2 separate regions of the Homo sapiens genome follow, and region 1 is linked to region 2. Evidence: fine-mapped expression QTL. Tissue or cell type: whole blood. Region 2 holds a variant in brackets; the other region holds the start of a gene. All regions are shown on one strand. Distances are between the middles of the regions.

Region 1 (8,000 bases), 49 kb after region 2:
AACATGGCCAGGGACAGTGCTGGGTTCTCATAATTCCCAAGTAATTCTAGCCAGACCTTGTCCTCAAGGAGCTTATGAGCAGCATGAGGAGATAAAAAACAGATAAATAACTCTAATTCAGGAAGAATTTGATAAATGCATGATAACTACTACTAGAATTCAGAGGAGAGGAAATTTTCTTTGAATAGAGACTAAAGGAAGGAATAATGAATGTGGTAGCATTTGGGCTGGACCTATTACAAGAGGCATGCTTTCCCCTGACAAGCCAAGAAAGTGGGGATTTAAGGTAGAAGAAAAGAAAAGCCTTGAGTTCTTGGAGTATTAAAATTTTGCTTGGCTGAAGCATAGGTTACAGTCGGAGGAGATGGACTAGGAAGGATCGTTATGGGCAGAGAGGAAGCCCTGAACTCATGGGGGAAGCTATGATTTGGGTTAAAGACAGAGCTGGGTCATGTCAAGATGGATCCTGAAGCAGTAAAAAAAAATCCAAGAAAGTAAACAGGTTGCAGGGTTTAGGATGAAGTCCGGGAGGAAAGGGCAGAGTGGTCCTTAGGAGGCCGTTAGGACAGGTAAGGTAATGGGTCTCAAAGGGAGTGGCCGAAATGCAATGGAAAAAGAGAGATTGTAAAGCTAGAAGGCTTAGGAATTGCCTCTTGATTAGGTGTGGAAGGCAAGGGAAAATCAGCCCTCGAAGAAGACAGTGAGATTTTAATCTGGGTGGCTGGAGAGACAGTGATGCTGGGCACAGACACGGGGAAGTTGAGAGGAACACCATGTTTGAGAATGGTGACTCATATTTGAACAAGCCTGCAATGCCCAGCAGACCGCTGGAAAAGTGGGGCTGGAGACACATTCAACGGAGGAGCCAGATCAATCTTTACCCTTCTTCACCTGAGAGAGCCAGTAAGTCACGGCTGGAACGTGTGTGTCCAGCAGGAGAGGGTAGGGAGGGAAGCCAAGAGAGCTGGGAGCCCGAGTGAAGTTTTTGCCAAAGGCAGAAGAGGAAAGTCGGCGTAGCACAGTATACTTTCCCACCCATGCTCACCAAGCCCAGGGACAAGGCTCACCAAGATGAGTTTGGAAGAGAATGCTGGAGAGAAAGTGGTTAAGAAAACTGCCTTTACTGAACTTCTTGGGCTAACTTTGATTGTAAGTCTCTGAACAATCAAAGCCTGTGAGGAGACAGCTAACCTTCTTATTCTTCCTATGTCAATAGTGAACAATTGCAGATCCCCTTTCCTTTCCTTCTCCTTTCCCCTGTTCCTCTCTCCTCCCTCCCTGAATACTCTTGCTTTTTTCTGGGACTGGTCTAGAGCATGGGTGGCCATTGTTGACCTACAGGAGGCACCACTGTCACCAACAAAGGGTAACAGTCTTTCTTTTCAATATTTATTTATATCCAGTATTTATTTTCAATACTGACTATGGAGAGAGCTCTCCTGTGCTCAAACACTGCAATACTGGGGGTCTTTCAAAGCACAAAAACATATATTTGCATGATGGCATCATTAACATTTTTATGGCTTTCTATTTCTTTTTTGTACTGGTCTCAAGAGCCACTCATAAATCTCTCAGTAACTGCATAGTGTCCCAGGGCCAGAGACCGGCCACTCCTGGCATTGTGATTAGAGTCATTTAATATCCAAGGTGGTGACTAATGTCTGGCAACAAAGCCTCCATTGGGTGTCATGTGTCCTGGGACCCTGAGCGTGGGCACTCTAGGAGCACCTCAGTATTGCGTGTTAGTACTATGGCCGAGAGAATAGTTGAGAAAGTGGTCAAGAGGTGGATCCATGTGAACGCCACTGGGAAATGAGAGACCTCGTTCCCAATCACGGTCAGTGCAACTCGAAAGCCTAAAATCAGTTTAAAACAAAGGTATCTACCTTTATCTTATGTTCATATCCTAGGCTTTTAATAATACGTATTTTTCACATGTTTACAGAAAGCAGTCAACTGAGCTATTCATGGAAAGGTTTGTGGGTTTGGTTAACGAAGTGGAGGAGTATTACATTTCAGCTGGAAACACATCCCTAGAATGCCAAAACATTTATTCCAAAGTCTGGTTTCCTGGTGCAATCGGAGGCATGGCAATGCCTCTGTTCAGAGACTGGGGGCTAGGGCCAGTAAGGCATTTGATCCACATGTATCCCAGAAGGCTTTTATTGTTAAATTATATTCTTTCGGAAAAACCACCCATGTCCTATTTTGTAAACTTGATATCCATACACTTTTGACTGGCATTCTATTTTAGCCGTAAGACTATGATTCACAGCAAGCCTGTTTTTCCTCTTGCTTGGGGTGGCAGCAGAAAGCATAGGGTACTTTCCAGCCTCCAAGGGTAGGGGCAAAGGGGCTGGGGTTTCTCCTCCCCAGTACAGCTTTCTCTGGCTGTGCCACACTGCTCCCTGTGAGCAGACAGCAAGTCTCCCCTCACTCCCCACTGCCATTCATCCAGCGCTGTGCAGTAGCCCAGCTGCGTGTCTGCCGGGAGGGGCTGCCAAGTGCCCTGCCTACTGGCTGCTTCCCGAATCCCTGCCATTCCACGCACAAACACATCCACACACTCTCTCTGCCTAGTTCACACACTGAGCCACTCGCACATGCGAGCACATTCCTTCCTTCCTTCTCACTCTCTCGGCCCTTGACTTCTACAAGCCCATGGAACATTTCTGGAAAGACGTTCTTGATCCAGCAGGGTAGGCTTGTTTTGATTTCTCTCTCTGTAGCTTTAGCATTTTGAGAAAGCAACTTACCTTTCTGGCTAGTGTCTGTATCCTAGCAGGGAGATGAGGATTGCTGTTCTCCATGGGGGTATGTGTGTGTCTCCTTTTTCTTTCAGGACTTGTAGGATTCTTTGTGCCATTTGCATATAATTTGGCAGGTTCACATTTTTTAAGAGCCCTATGAAGTGCTTTTTGCATGTGTTTTAAAAAGGCATTTGAAAATTGAAAGTGTGATTTATGGAAATTAAATCATCTGTAAAAAATTGCTTTGGAAAGTAATGATTGCTGGCCATAAAGGGAAATATCTGCGATGCACCTAATGTGTTTTTAACCCTTTATTTGCTGACAATCTATAGTCATTAATGCTAAACTCGATTTTGGCTTCAGCTACATTTGCATATTGTCCAACAATGGTCTATTTTTGTAAGAATTAGATAAAATGTATACTTGATATAAAATAGTCAAAAATGTAACTCTTAGTAACAGTAAGCTTGGCATTTAGATAGACCATGAACACTTCGTCAGATACTCTGTTGGGTGTTTGGGATAGCAATTAAAACAAAGTATTGATAGTTGTATCAGAGTCTATTAGGCTGCAGCAAAGGAAGTTTATTCAAAAGTATAAACTATCCAAGATTATAGACGCATGATATACTTCACCTATTTTTTGTCTCCTTAATATGTATATATATATATATATATATATATATACACATATATGTGTGTGTGTATGTGCGTGTGCATGTTTAACTTTTAATTCAGTTAAAAACTTTTTTCTATTTGTTTTTCATCTGGATATTTGATTCTGCATATCCTAGCCCAAGTGAACCGAGAAGATCGAGTTGTAGGACTAAAGGATAGACATGCAGAAATGCATTTTAAAAATCTGTTAGCTGGACCAGACCGACAATGTAACATAATTGCCAAAGCTTTGGTTCGTGACCTGAGGTTATGTTTGGTATGAAAAGGTCACATTTTATATTCAGTTTTCTGAAGTTTTGGTTGCATAACCAACCTGTGGAAGGCATGAACACCCATGTGCGCCCTAACCAAAGGTTTTTCTGAATCATCCTTCACATGAGAATTCCTAATGGGACCAAGTACAGTACTGTGGTCCAACATAAACACACAAGTCAGGCTGAGAGAATCTCAGAAGGTTGTGGAAGGGTCTATCTACTTTGGGAGCATTTTGCAGAGGAAGAAACTGAGGTCCTGGCAGGTTGCATTCTCCTGATGGCAAAATGCAGCTCTTCCTATATGTATACCCTGAATCTCCGCCCCCTTCCCCTCAGATGCCCCCTGTCAGTTCCCCCAGCTGCTAAATATAGCTGTCTGTGGCTGGCTGCGTATGCAACCGCACACCCCATTCTATCTGCCCTATCTCGGTTACAGTGTAGTCCTCCCCAGGGTCATCCTATGTACACACTACGTATTTCTAGCCAACGAGGAGGGGGAATCAAACAGAAAGAGAGACAAACAGAGATATATCGGAGTCTGGCACGGGGCACATAAGGCAGCACATTAGAGAAAGCCGGCCCCTGGATCCGTCTTTCGCGTTTATTTTAAGCCCAGTCTTCCCTGGGCCACCTTTAGCAGATCCTCGTGCGCCCCCGCCCCCTGGCCGTGAAACTCAGCCTCTATCCAGCAGCGACGACAAGTAAAGTAAAGTTCAGGGAAGCTGCTCTTTGGGATCGCTCCAAATCGAGTTGTGCCTGGAGTGATGTTTAAGCCAATGTCAGGGCAAGGCAACAGTCCCTGGCCGTCCTCCAGCACCTTTGTAATGCATATGAGCTCGGGAGACCAGTACTTAAAGTTGGAGGCCCGGGAGCCCAGGAGCTGGCGGAGGGCGTTCGTCCTGGGACTGCACTTGCTCCCGTCGGGTCGCCCGGCTTCACCGGACCCGCAGGCTCCCGGGGCAGGGCCGGGGCCAGAGCTCGCGTGTCGGCGGGACATGCGCTGCGTCGCCTCTAACCTCGGGCTGTGCTCTTTTTCCAGGTGGCCCGCCGGTTTCTGAGCCTTCTGCCCTGCGGGGACACGGTCTGCACCCTGCCCGCGGCCACGGACCATGACCATGACCCTCCACACCAAAGCATCTGGGATGGCCCTACTGCATCAGATCCAAGGGAACGAGCTGGAGCCCCTGAACCGTCCGCAGCTCAAGATCCCCCTGGAGCGGCCCCTGGGCGAGGTGTACCTGGACAGCAGCAAGCCCGCCGTGTACAACTACCCCGAGGGCGCCGCCTACGAGTTCAACGCCGCGGCCGCCGCCAACGCGCAGGTCTACGGTCAGACCGGCCTCCCCTACGGCCCCGGGTCTGAGGCTGCGGCGTTCGGCTCCAACGGCCTGGGGGGTTTCCCCCCACTCAACAGCGTGTCTCCGAGCCCGCTGATGCTACTGCACCCGCCGCCGCAGCTGTCGCCTTTCCTGCAGCCCCACGGCCAGCAGGTGCCCTACTACCTGGAGAACGAGCCCAGCGGCTACACGGTGCGCGAGGCCGGCCCGCCGGCATTCTACAGGTACCCGCGCCCGCGCCGCCCGTCGGGGTGGCCGCCGCGCCCGGCAGGAGGGAGGGAGGGAGGGAGGGAGAAGGGAGAGCCTAGGGAGCTGCGGGAGCCGCGGGACGCGCGACCCGAGGGTGCGCGCAGGGAGCCCGGGGCGCGCGGCCCAGCCCGGGGGTTCTGCGTGCAGCCCGCGCTGCGTTCAGAGTCAAGTTCTCTCGCCGGGCAGCTGAAAAAAACGTACTCTCCACCCACTTACCGTCCGTGCGAGAGGCAGACCCGAAAGCCCGGGCTTCCTAACAAAACACACGTTGGAAAACCAGACAAAGCAGCAGTTATTTGTGGGGGAAAACACCTCCAGGCAAATAAACACGGGGCGCTTTGAGTCACTTGGGAAGGTCTCGCTCTTGGCATTTAAAGTTGGGGGTGTTTGGAGTTAGCAGAGCTCAGCAGAGTTTTATTTATCCTTTTAATGTTTTTGTTTAATGTGCTCCCCAAATTTCCTTTCATCTAGACTATTTGATTGGAAATATGTCAGCTATGATGATGACTTTCTGGGAAGCGATTCCTGTCACCCGCTTTCCCCTCCTCCCCACCCCACGTCCTGGGGCTTTAGAGAGCGATTGGGAGTTGAATGGGTCTGATTTCGGAGTTAGCTGGCTGAGTCCGCGCTGGAGCGGATTGCTGGCATGTGACTTCTGACAGCCGGAAATTTGTAGGTGTCCCGCGAGTTTAAAACAAGCCATATGGAAGCACAAGTGCTTAAAAATAATCTCCTGCCAGCCCAGTGACAAGCCTGTCCCACCCGGGGAGAATGCCCCGGAGTGGCGTGCGGGTCAGCCAGGGTCTGCGCCTCGCAGCCACTGTGGAAGGAGCGCGGCCGGTCCAGGACACAGGAGACCACTTTGTGACTTCAATGGCGAAGGTTGTGTGTCCTCATTTTAATTTTTTTCCCTACAAGAATTGTTCTTTCTCCCTCTCCTCTCCCTCCCATTTTCTCTTGCCCAGTTTCTCCTTTTGTTTTTTGTTTTTTGTTTTCCTGATGGGCCTGCAGAGGGATTAGGTGGGCGCTTCTGGTGAACACCTTCCTAGGTGGCCACAGGACAGGTGTACCCCGGACTGGGTTTGGAAGCTTCAGGGCGCCACATGGCTGGGTCCTGAATTAGGCATTTCCCAACTGTACACTGGTATCCGGACTGGTGTCCCTATATCTTTCTGCCTTGTAAGCCGTGGACCAGTTTTTGTTCAGTATTCTGTTTCCAGGGATATTTATAGCAGAAGGAAGGGGACTAAAGTGCAGTTTGGCCCCAGAGGATACTGAAGGGCAGATTCTGGGGGTATTCAGTGTGCATCTTCAGCCGCCTTGGAGAAATTTAGAGCATCCCACAGCCACGCAGATCCAAGCTGTCTTTACTCAAAAGACAAACAATGAACAAAACTTTTAAAGGTTGGCATATTTCAAATTAATTTTACTTGTTTTAATTTAGGGTTAAAACAGAGAAAAAGGATTTCTTCTGCCCACCTTTTTTTTTTTAAATGGAAGAACAAAGTACAGCGATTAAGTCTAATTCCACACAACATTTAAAACTGCTTGATGTGAAGGAAGGCACTGGTATGATGTGAATTCCATAACCTTATGATGGACTCCAGAAACCATTTTCTTCCCTATTTAATTTTCAGTTCTTTTATTGCAAATTAATGCTGCTGAATTTCAATGGGCACTAATGAGACTGCTCCTTGGTAGATTATTTACTGCCTTGCTAATAATTACAAAGTGAACCTGGTCAAATACAGAGGGGATCGCATCTTATTCAAAATTGTTCATCATCCCAGTGATAAGTGGTATCAGTGTAATATGCCCTATCTTACACTTTCTGCATTACATGATATTCAAACACTCTTAGAATAATAAAAAAAGAGACAAGGAACTTAAAAATTAAAAAAAAAACTTGCACAAATGGGACTCTGTGTGGAAATTCAGTTTTAGAATGATTTTTCCTGTGTTTTATTTCCCGGATTATCTTTCCTCTTTTGTTAGAATTCTGCCTGTTATTATCCAGCAAGGAAAAGAAGCATCTATGCAAGTTCTTCATATGGACAGATATTATTTAGTATTTTTCCCCTCTCAGTTTTTCTGCTTAAATGACTCTGGGTATAAAGGAAAGGATTGATTGGGCTCTTTTAGGAAACTTTAAGTTTCTTAAGTAGTTCTCAAAAGTTTTGGGGCTGAAAGCAGTGTTTTCAAACTGCTTGTCATGACCCAGAGGGTCATGAACTCAGTTTAGTGAGTCTAGAATATTTTTTAAAAGGACTAAAATGGAAAGGAATATAATAGAAAATATCAGAGTGCATGGTATTTCGTAAGGATAAGTTTTGTTTCCTGAAAATCTGTTTTAATTATATGTGCTTCTGTGTGCTGATTGTGATGTAAAATGTATTTCTTACTGTGGATTGAATTCAAAGAAAAAATTAGAAAGCTAATGGCCTAAAATATTATATGTTCAGTAGAAAACAAAAAATTCAGGCAAGTGGCTGGTTGTTTTTACCTATACAAATCAAAAGGCTATTTTGATTGTCTTCATTTTCCCCTTATAAATTAGGTTGGTGTCTTTAGTCATTTAGGCTAAGTTTTACTATCTGATTCTTAACTTTTCTATTGTAGAATGGTGCTGTCATGTGGACTGTCCTCCCGAGTGTCCCACTGGATGTTCAGAGAATTTATGTGAAGGTCACGTCATTTAGCATTGAGATGCTGTGGTTACCTTCTTCCATTTC
Region 2 (8,530 bases):
GTTAAGTTCCCCAGCCTCCAGCTTCTCTCTTCCTCTTACCTATATTTGTACTTGCCCACTTTTCCTCTTGTGGGCCTGTTCCTAGAATCCATTATGTTCTGTGGGTGACATCAGCCTGCTACTGCGGGAAGAAATAGAATTTTATGGTGCCCAAGATAAAATCGACTATGATGATGCAGAATGAAGACCTGGAGAGGAGTCAGAGATTGCAGGGGATAAAAAGAGAGAAATCAGAGATGCTCCCACAAACAGAGAAAACCTTCAGAAGCAGCAGGAAGGACAGAGTAAATGGAGAACAAAAACTCAAGTCAAAATAGTCAATGGAAATAAACAGTTTTGAATTCCAGTTATAATTTGGAAAAGAAGCAAACGTTTATTTTAAATTAAGAAAAAAGTCGCTTATAATTTCCTGAAGTTTAGAAAAGTGAAAAATAGTTAAACCTCCTGTTGTTAGCTAAGAAGTGTCTATTATTATAAGTTTGTTGCTGGAGAGAACATAAAAATCTCTATCTATTGCTATTTTTTTTTTTTTTGCATAAGGGATGGATAAAAGAGTGTTTATTTTATTTAGCCTTTGGCCTGTAAAGTAAGATTTATGAAACAAAGGACAATCGGAAATGATAAGAATTTTTTCCTAATTTCTAATTATTTAGCTAAACCTTGATTGATTTCTCTCAGGCTAGTGCCCATATTACAGCAGCAGTCAGCCTTCATTTATCTTACCTGGGACCACTGCTAAATCCGATGTCACTTTTCAGTTTTTATATTATGTGACCATTTAGCCACATTTCACCTACTTGATCATTCCCTCCATCTTGAGACCTCCCTCGACCCGGCTTCCAACATACTTTGCCCTCCTGGTTTTTCTTTCTCTGTTGGCTCACTTTCTCAGTCTCCTCTGCTGGTTGCTCCATTTTTCCACAATCTCTCAAAACTGGTGCTCCTCAGATTAAGTCCTTGGACTTCTCTCCTTAGATTGACATCTGGAGTCATGGCTTCAAACACCACCTATCACTCCCTTTCTCCTTGAACTCTAGACGTGTCCATCCAACTGCTACGTGACATCTCCACTGGGATTTCTAAGAACTTTGCCAAACTTAACATGTCTAAAACCAAATTCTGGGCTGGGGGTGGTGGCTCACGCCTGTAATCCCAGCACTTTAGGAGGCTGAGGTGGGCAGACTACTTGAGCCCAGGAGTTCGAGACCAGTCTGGCCAATAGAGAAAAGCTGTCTCTACAAAAAATACAACACTTAGCTGGACGTGATGGTGCATGCCTGTAGTCCCAGTTACTGGGGAGGCTGAGGCGGGAGGATTGCTTGAGCCTGAGAAGTTGATTCTGCAGTAAGCTATGATTACACCACTACATTCCAGCCTGGGTGACAGAGTGAGACCCTGCCTCAAAAAAAAAAAACAAAAACCAAAACCAAAACCAAAAAAAAAAAGCAAAGAGCAAAACACAAAAAACATATTCCAAATCTCCCCTTTAAACCTCCTCTTCTTACAATGAGTCCTATCTTGATTTATGGCAGATCCTTCCTTCCAGTTCTCAAGCCAAACACCATGGGGTCATTCTTGACTCCTCTCTTCCATGGGCTCATCTAAACATCAGAGTATCCTGTTGGCTATCTGGAATTTAACCACTTCCTATCACTGCCATTGCTACCCACCTGCTCTTAGTTATCACCAGAGTTCCCTGGAGTGTTGGAGCCGCCGCAGAGCTGGTTTCCCTGCTCCTGCCTTTCCTGCCCATGCTCTGTCCTGCCAGTCAGCTCTGTCCTTTAAAAATGGAAATCAGGTTACCTCATGACTCTTTTCTTTCTTTTTCTTTTCTTTTTTTTTTTACAGAATCTTGCTCTGTCATCCAGCCTGGAGAGCAGTGGCATGATCTCTACTCACTGCAACTTCCGCCTCCCAGATTCAAGTGATTCTCCTGTCTCAGCCTCTTAAGTAGCTGGGATTATAGGTGCCAGCCACCATGCCCAGCTACTTTTTGTATTTTTAGTAGCGAAGGGGTTTCGCCATGTTGGCCAGGCTGGTCTTGAACTCCTGACCTCAGGTGATCTGCCCGCTTCAGCCTCCCGAAGTGCTGGGATTACAGGTGTGAGCCACCGCGCCCAGCCATGACTCTTTTCAAAAACTCCCCATCTTCTCCACTTCCATTCAGTAACAGTCAGATCTGCATGGCCCCCTCCTGACCTTCTGATGTCATGTTCTTTGCTACCCCTTGAGTGCATTGAACATGCCTCTGACCCAGAACTTTTCTGTTTGCTATTTCCTCAAGTGCATATCTTGTTCCTTCATTTTCTTCAGGTGATTATTAAAATTTCACTTCCATGAGTCCTTCCCTGGCCCCCATATTTAACACTGCATCTTCCTCCATCTTCTTTCCCTCCTCCCCATGTACATTTTACTCCCTTACTAAATTTTTTTTCCTATCTCACTTTCTTTTCTTTTTGAGACAGAGTATTACTCTGTCACTTAGGCTGGAGCGCAGTGGCGCAATCTTGGCTCACTGCAACCTCCACCTCCTGGGTTCAAGCAATTCTCCTGCCTCGGCCTCCCGAGTAGCTGGGATTAGAGGCGCGTGCCACCATGCCTGGCTAATTTTTGTATTTTTAGTAGAGACAGGGTTTCATCACGTTGGTCGGGCTGGTCTCCAACTCCTGACCTTGGCTTCCCAAAGTGCTGGTATTACTTTCTAACCTCCTGTGTATGCTACCTATTTATTTGTCTGTCTCTCTACACTAGAATATAAGCTCTATGAGGGTAGACTTCTTTGTTTTGTCCAATGCTCTATTTCCAATATTTATAACCGTACTGGCCGGTAGGTACTGTCAATTATAGTTTTTGAATAAATTGAGAGTAACAAATTCTAACTGGTGAAAATAAATTAAATGGGCCGGGCGTGATGGCTCACGCCTGTAATCCCAGCACTTTGGGAGGCCGAGGCGGGCAGATCACTTGAGGTCAGGAGTTCAAGACCAGCCTGGGCAACATGGTGAAACCCCGTCTCTATTAAAAATACAAAAATTAGCTGGGTGTGGTGGTGCATGCCTGTAATCCCAGCTACTCGGGAGGCTGAGGCACAAGAATCGCTTGAACCCTGGAGGCGAAGGTTGCAGTGAGCCGGCATTGAGCCACTGCACTCCAGCCTGGGCGACAGAGCGAGACTCTGTCTCAAAATAAATAAATAAAATAAAAATTAAAAAGAAAATAAATGATCTCACAGGATATCATTTCTTGATTGGAGGAGGAGAGAAAAATGTGTATGTGTGAGGGTACAGAGAGAGTTCCTTTGCATTAGTGAGGGTTCACATCAGAACTGTCTAACCTCCCTACTCAGTGGGTCCTGTTACCTCTCTCCTGAATCCAATAATACTCTGGTGCACACCTTTTACTGGTACTGAGGCTATTTTAACGTTCCATTAAAAAAAAAAAGAAAACATTTAAAATACAAAAACAAGGCTGTACTACTTTAACTCTGACCTTAGAAGACTCTCAGTTTTATAACTGTTTAGAGAAAATGTGGAAATGTTTGCTGGCCCCAATCTTTTTATTACTCATCTCTATAAAGAGGCTTTTAAGGACATATTAAAAAGTTTCCATCTCTCTTGTCTCTTGCCTTTCTTCTCATCTTCCTTTCTTGTACCCCAAATGGCTGAAAGCAAGACCCTGAGAGTCTGGAAGAAATATATTCTGGTCAGAGCAGACTGAGCTGGAGCTGGCCTAGAACCTTGGATCCTGACCTCAGAATTGCTGCTCAAATTACTGCTCTCTGAAAGAGTGAGCTCATGCATGTTTATTATTACTGTGAACAAATTTAGCTGTTGTTTCACCCAAACATTGAAGTTCTCGCTTGGACCCCTTTGCTTGTTTGTGCTTTTGCAAATGTGTTTTCTCATGTGCTACTAGAACCAAGATGAAAGCTTCAGTTCTCAGAACAGGTGCCAC[G/A]ACCGAGGAGACAAAACAAGAGCTATAGAGGGGTGTGGTGTGTGAAACTGAGAAAGCAGGTAGTTTTTCAGAAAAACTGAGAGCCAGGAATGACTTCATCCATTTCCTGTAATAAGGCAATGGTCTGACCTTGAGGAACCTATTAGAGTGTGCTTCTAAACAGAGGCCATTTCGAGGCTGAATGTACGGGAGTATTTACCTTTGACTGTTTTCTGAAGCAAGGTATTTTATAAACTGTAAAGTGGCTTATACAATTTTAGGAATGGAAAGTTTTGCAAAGTCTCCAAAATCCCTGGGAGTTTTGAATGTGCAGGCCATATGAATTCTTTGTAGTTTCATGGTCTTGCTGTTCAGCATTCTTTAGAGTCACCTGCATGGTAGAAGTTTAGTAGGAATTTGGGTAGTTATGGGCTGGTTTCTTTGTTTTCCCAAATAGAGGTAGCAAAATGGATGCTAAGAAGCAAATTACTTTTACTATTTTAGATGCCTCTGGGGACATCCTGTCATAATGCAACTTAAAATATACTCGTCTCCTCAGTTCCTTTTTATGTATTTATTTAATAGTCTTCAACCAATTTGTTCTTCATTAGCTGTTCTACAATACTTCAAGAGAAGTCATGATAATGATGCATTTAGGATCAGAAAAATATAGCATGTGTGAGTTCCTGGGGACTTTAGAGAATATCTAGCCCAGTCTTTCATTTTATAGAAGAGGAAGGCCAGGGATGGTGGCTCATGCCTGTAATCCCAGCACTTTGGGAGGCCAAAGTGGGCGGATCACCTGAGGTCAGGAGTTCGAGACCAGCCTGGCCAACATGGTGAAACCGCATCTCTACTAAAACTACAAAAATTAGGCAGGCCTGGTGGTGGGTGCCTGTAATCCCAGCTACTCAGGAGGCTGAGGCAGGAGAATTGCTTGAACCAGGCAGAGGTTGCAGTGAGCCAATATCATGCCACTGCACTCCAGCCTGGGCAACAGAGTGAGACTCTGTCTCAAATTAAAAAAAAAAAAAAAAGAAGAAGGAGAGGAAGCTGGGGGTGAGGACAGGCAGTGACTCACCCAGGGTCTCACACTGATTTGCTGGCAGAGTTAAGCATGAAAAGGTGCCTCTCCTAGTCTCTTTCCAGTGTTCTTGTCATCACAATGAGTTAAAATAAAAATTACTAGCAACTTGGGAGTAATAACAATAAACTTCTCAAAATCTACTACATGGTCTAGAAAACCAAACATAAGGCCGGACGCAGTGGCTCACGCCTGTAATCCCAGCACTTTGGGAGGCCAAGGCAGGCGGATCAGGAGGTCAAGAGATCAAGACAATCCTGGCCAACATGGTGACACTCTGTCTCTACTAAAACCACAGAAATTAGCTGGGTGTGGTGGTGCGTGCCTGTAGTCCCAGCTACTCAAGAGGCTGAGGCAGGAGAATTGCTTGAACACGGGAGGCAGAGGTTGCAGTGAGCCGAGATCATGCCACTGCACTCCAGCATGGCGACTGGACTCTGTCTCAAAAAAAAAAAAAAAAAAAAAGAAAACCAAACATAAAACCAGAATATTCCTGTGAGTTCCATTACATAGGACAATATGGTCCTGCTGATCTATTAAAATTATGTTTATAAATTAGAGGCTCTTCATTGGGAGATATACTTAATGCTAGATGACGAGTTAGTGGGTGCAGCGCACCAGCATGGCACATGTATACATATGTAACTAACCTGCACATTGTGCACATGTACCCTAAAACTTAAAGTATAATAATAATAATAATAAAAAAAGAATAACAGGAAAAATAATTAGAGGCTCTTTACTGTATTTAAGGTGTTCAAATAATTGAAGCTAGTTTAGTATCTCCTTAGCCTTCCCCAGCATGCCCTGCAGCTTTGACGCTGCAGAACACCAGTTGGTGGCTGATATTTAGATGATGGAAATCTTGGACACATTTTCATTTTTGATAAAATGACATGGCACTATGGTTACATTTTACAAATATTTTTGCGGATGTATATCAGGTGGCATACCCAAGAAGGAACAGACCTTCCTCAGGGGTCCTTCTTAGGAAAGTACAGCTTTGCTTCTCTGATCATCAGAATTGGATCCTTCAGGTATTAGGTTGGTGCAAAAGTAACTGCGGTTTTTGCCATTCAAAGTAATGGCACCTGAAAGGGTTGGTAAAATTCAGAATATTATAAAATCAGTAAAAGCTTAATCAAATTTGCCTAAATCTATCCTACAGATTAGTCTATGCATGGTTTATTAAACAACCTAACTGAAACACACATGCATATGTGTGAGTAAGCTGACATCAGGGATCACCTTATCATGGAAAATCTAGGGAAGGTTGGCTCAATCTTCAATTTGTGAAGACCAATTCCCCTACCACGTCCATATATACATATTCCCAGGAGACTTGTTTCTTCAGGGCTCTCTTTGGTTCTCAGCTCTTCCTTTCTGAATTAGTGGGTCACTTTAACCTCCCTTGGGTCACAGTCGTGTTCCACACTGGGTGGGTCCAGAGGTAGAACTCATTGCCTTTCTTTGAATCCCACACAAGACCACCCAACAAGGCATTGTAGTTGGTGGAAAACTCCATTGAAGAAAGGGTCTATATTGCAACAAACAAGCATCTAGAAATAGAATATTAAATATCCCTCCTCTTAAAAATCCATTGTCCAATTCAGACTTCAGCATAATGTAATCTTCTGTCTTCTTTTCTCTGTGTTTCCATCTTGAGAGCCATCCTATTATCTGTGTCCTTTCTTTGTTGTCTTAGGAAGAATATTTTGGCTTATCCTTTGTTTTGTTCTCTCCTTCCCGGACCTATTATGGTAAATGTGGAATTTGCAGATAGGCTTATTTGCGCTCCCCAGCCTGCTCCCTTAATGCTCTCTGGTAAGACACTTCTTTGAGTCCTCCGAGGCGAGTTGCTGCCCCCCAGCACCTGCTCTTCCCCATCGCAACCCATGACAGTAAACGCACTGCACATACTTATCCCACAGACTGCTGTGAGAACTAGATGGAGGCTATGTGTGAAGCTGCAAGCTCTTGGTAAAGTGCTACAGAAATTGGTAGACACTGTTACTATGATAAGATGTTCAGAAAATAATGGATCGATTAAAGTTTCACTTATCTATTAAAAGATAAAAAACTCTATGATTGAGACCTTTTTGGAATATTGGAAAATATTTTTGTGTGCTTATTAGCATACTGATATGTTTCAGTACACATTTCATGGATTTATGGCTAAGGATGTTACTTTCAAGAAGGTAACTATACATCGCTCTCTACTAGCATGCTGTTCTGTTCCTGAGAAATAGTGGCTGGGCGAAGGGTATGCAAACATTTCTTAATATCTCATCCAATACCATTTTCCCACTACTAATTATTCAACACATGGAAATGTAGGTCAAAGCATTAAAAAAAAAAACTAGAACAGCAATACCTTGGTGGTTGGCAGGTGTTTATTTAAAATATTTACGTTTTAGCCTTATTTTTTAATACTTCTTTTTCATATATATTAGATATTTAACTAAAGAAAATAATAATCATTCTCATGGAATACTTTAAAATAGTAGAAACAATCATGAATAGAAATGAAGATTTAGGCCTATACTACCCTAGGCTCTGTCATTCTTATTCCTAACCATTTGCATAGGAAATTTAGATTCACCCACTTCTCTTTCTTAGAATAAGATTCACAGGTTTTTGGGCATATTCCCATTGCATGCCTGACTGGGGAGGTGTTCAAATCCCTGCTTTTCTACTCCTCAGCCCTGTGACCCTGAGCAATTTCTGTGGCTTGGTTTCCTCATCTGTAAAATAGGATATTAATAGAACATATCCCTTTAACGTTGCAGTGATCACATTAATTAGTTGATGCAAAACAGTCCATCTAGAACAGTAAGCCCTCAATAAATGCTAGCTATCATTATCATTTCATAGCCAGCCCCACCATGGATGGGTCATGTGACCTGAAGCAAATTTAAATTCTCTGGATTTCAGTTATCTCTCATTGAAGGAATTAGGCTCCATCAGTGGTTCTCAAACTCAAGTGAGTATCAGAATCACAGGGAGGGTGTGTTATGACACTGAAGGCCGGGCCCCACCCTCAGAATTTCTTATTCAGTAGATCCAGGAGGGAGTGCAATAATTTGTATTTCTAAAAAGCTCCCAAGTGAAGTTGATGGCTGATCTGGAGACACACCTTGAAATTCTTCTGCTTACTCTAAACAAAACGTGCTTTTTTATCTTGAGTGCACATCAGAACCCTCTGGGGAGGTTAAAAGTCCCAGTGAAATCACAACCTCTGCAGATGGTAACCAGATCTTAGTGGCTTTTAAAGTTCTCCAGGTGCTTCCATTGAGCAGCTAAGGTTGACAACACTTCTAACACCGCTTTCAGGTGAAAAAGAACTATCATTCTAACTTAAATGAAGGAGAAAATGAATTCATCATTCTGACACCGTTATCTATTCTTTCATGCATGGGCTTATCCTATGAGAAATAAACATTTACTAAGGTGTATGCATGTTTTTAGAACATCCATTGGGAAGCATGTTGTACAGCTTGTAGTAAAACAGCA

The links.
Region 1: ESR1 starts here. The variant in region 2 is fine-mapped to the expression of ESR1 in whole blood (TOPMed, PIP above 0.99).

The regions. Positions count from the first base shown.
Region 1 is chr6:151,803,122-151,811,121 of GRCh38, forward strand. It overlaps ESR1 (estrogen receptor 1), which reads left to right and starts at 4,561. Exons shown (of 8, transcript NM_000125.4): 1 at 4,561-5,243. The coding sequence starts at 4,792.
Region 2 is chr6:151,753,808-151,762,337 of GRCh38, forward strand. It overlaps LOC107986529 (a long non-coding RNA gene), which reads right to left. Exons shown (of 2, transcript XR_007059818.1): 2 at 1-121. It also overlaps a transcript of ESR1 not described here. Among named protein-coding and RNA genes, the nearest start is that of ESR1, 50 kb to the right of the region's middle. The variant G/A (reference allele first, on the strand shown) is at 3,955.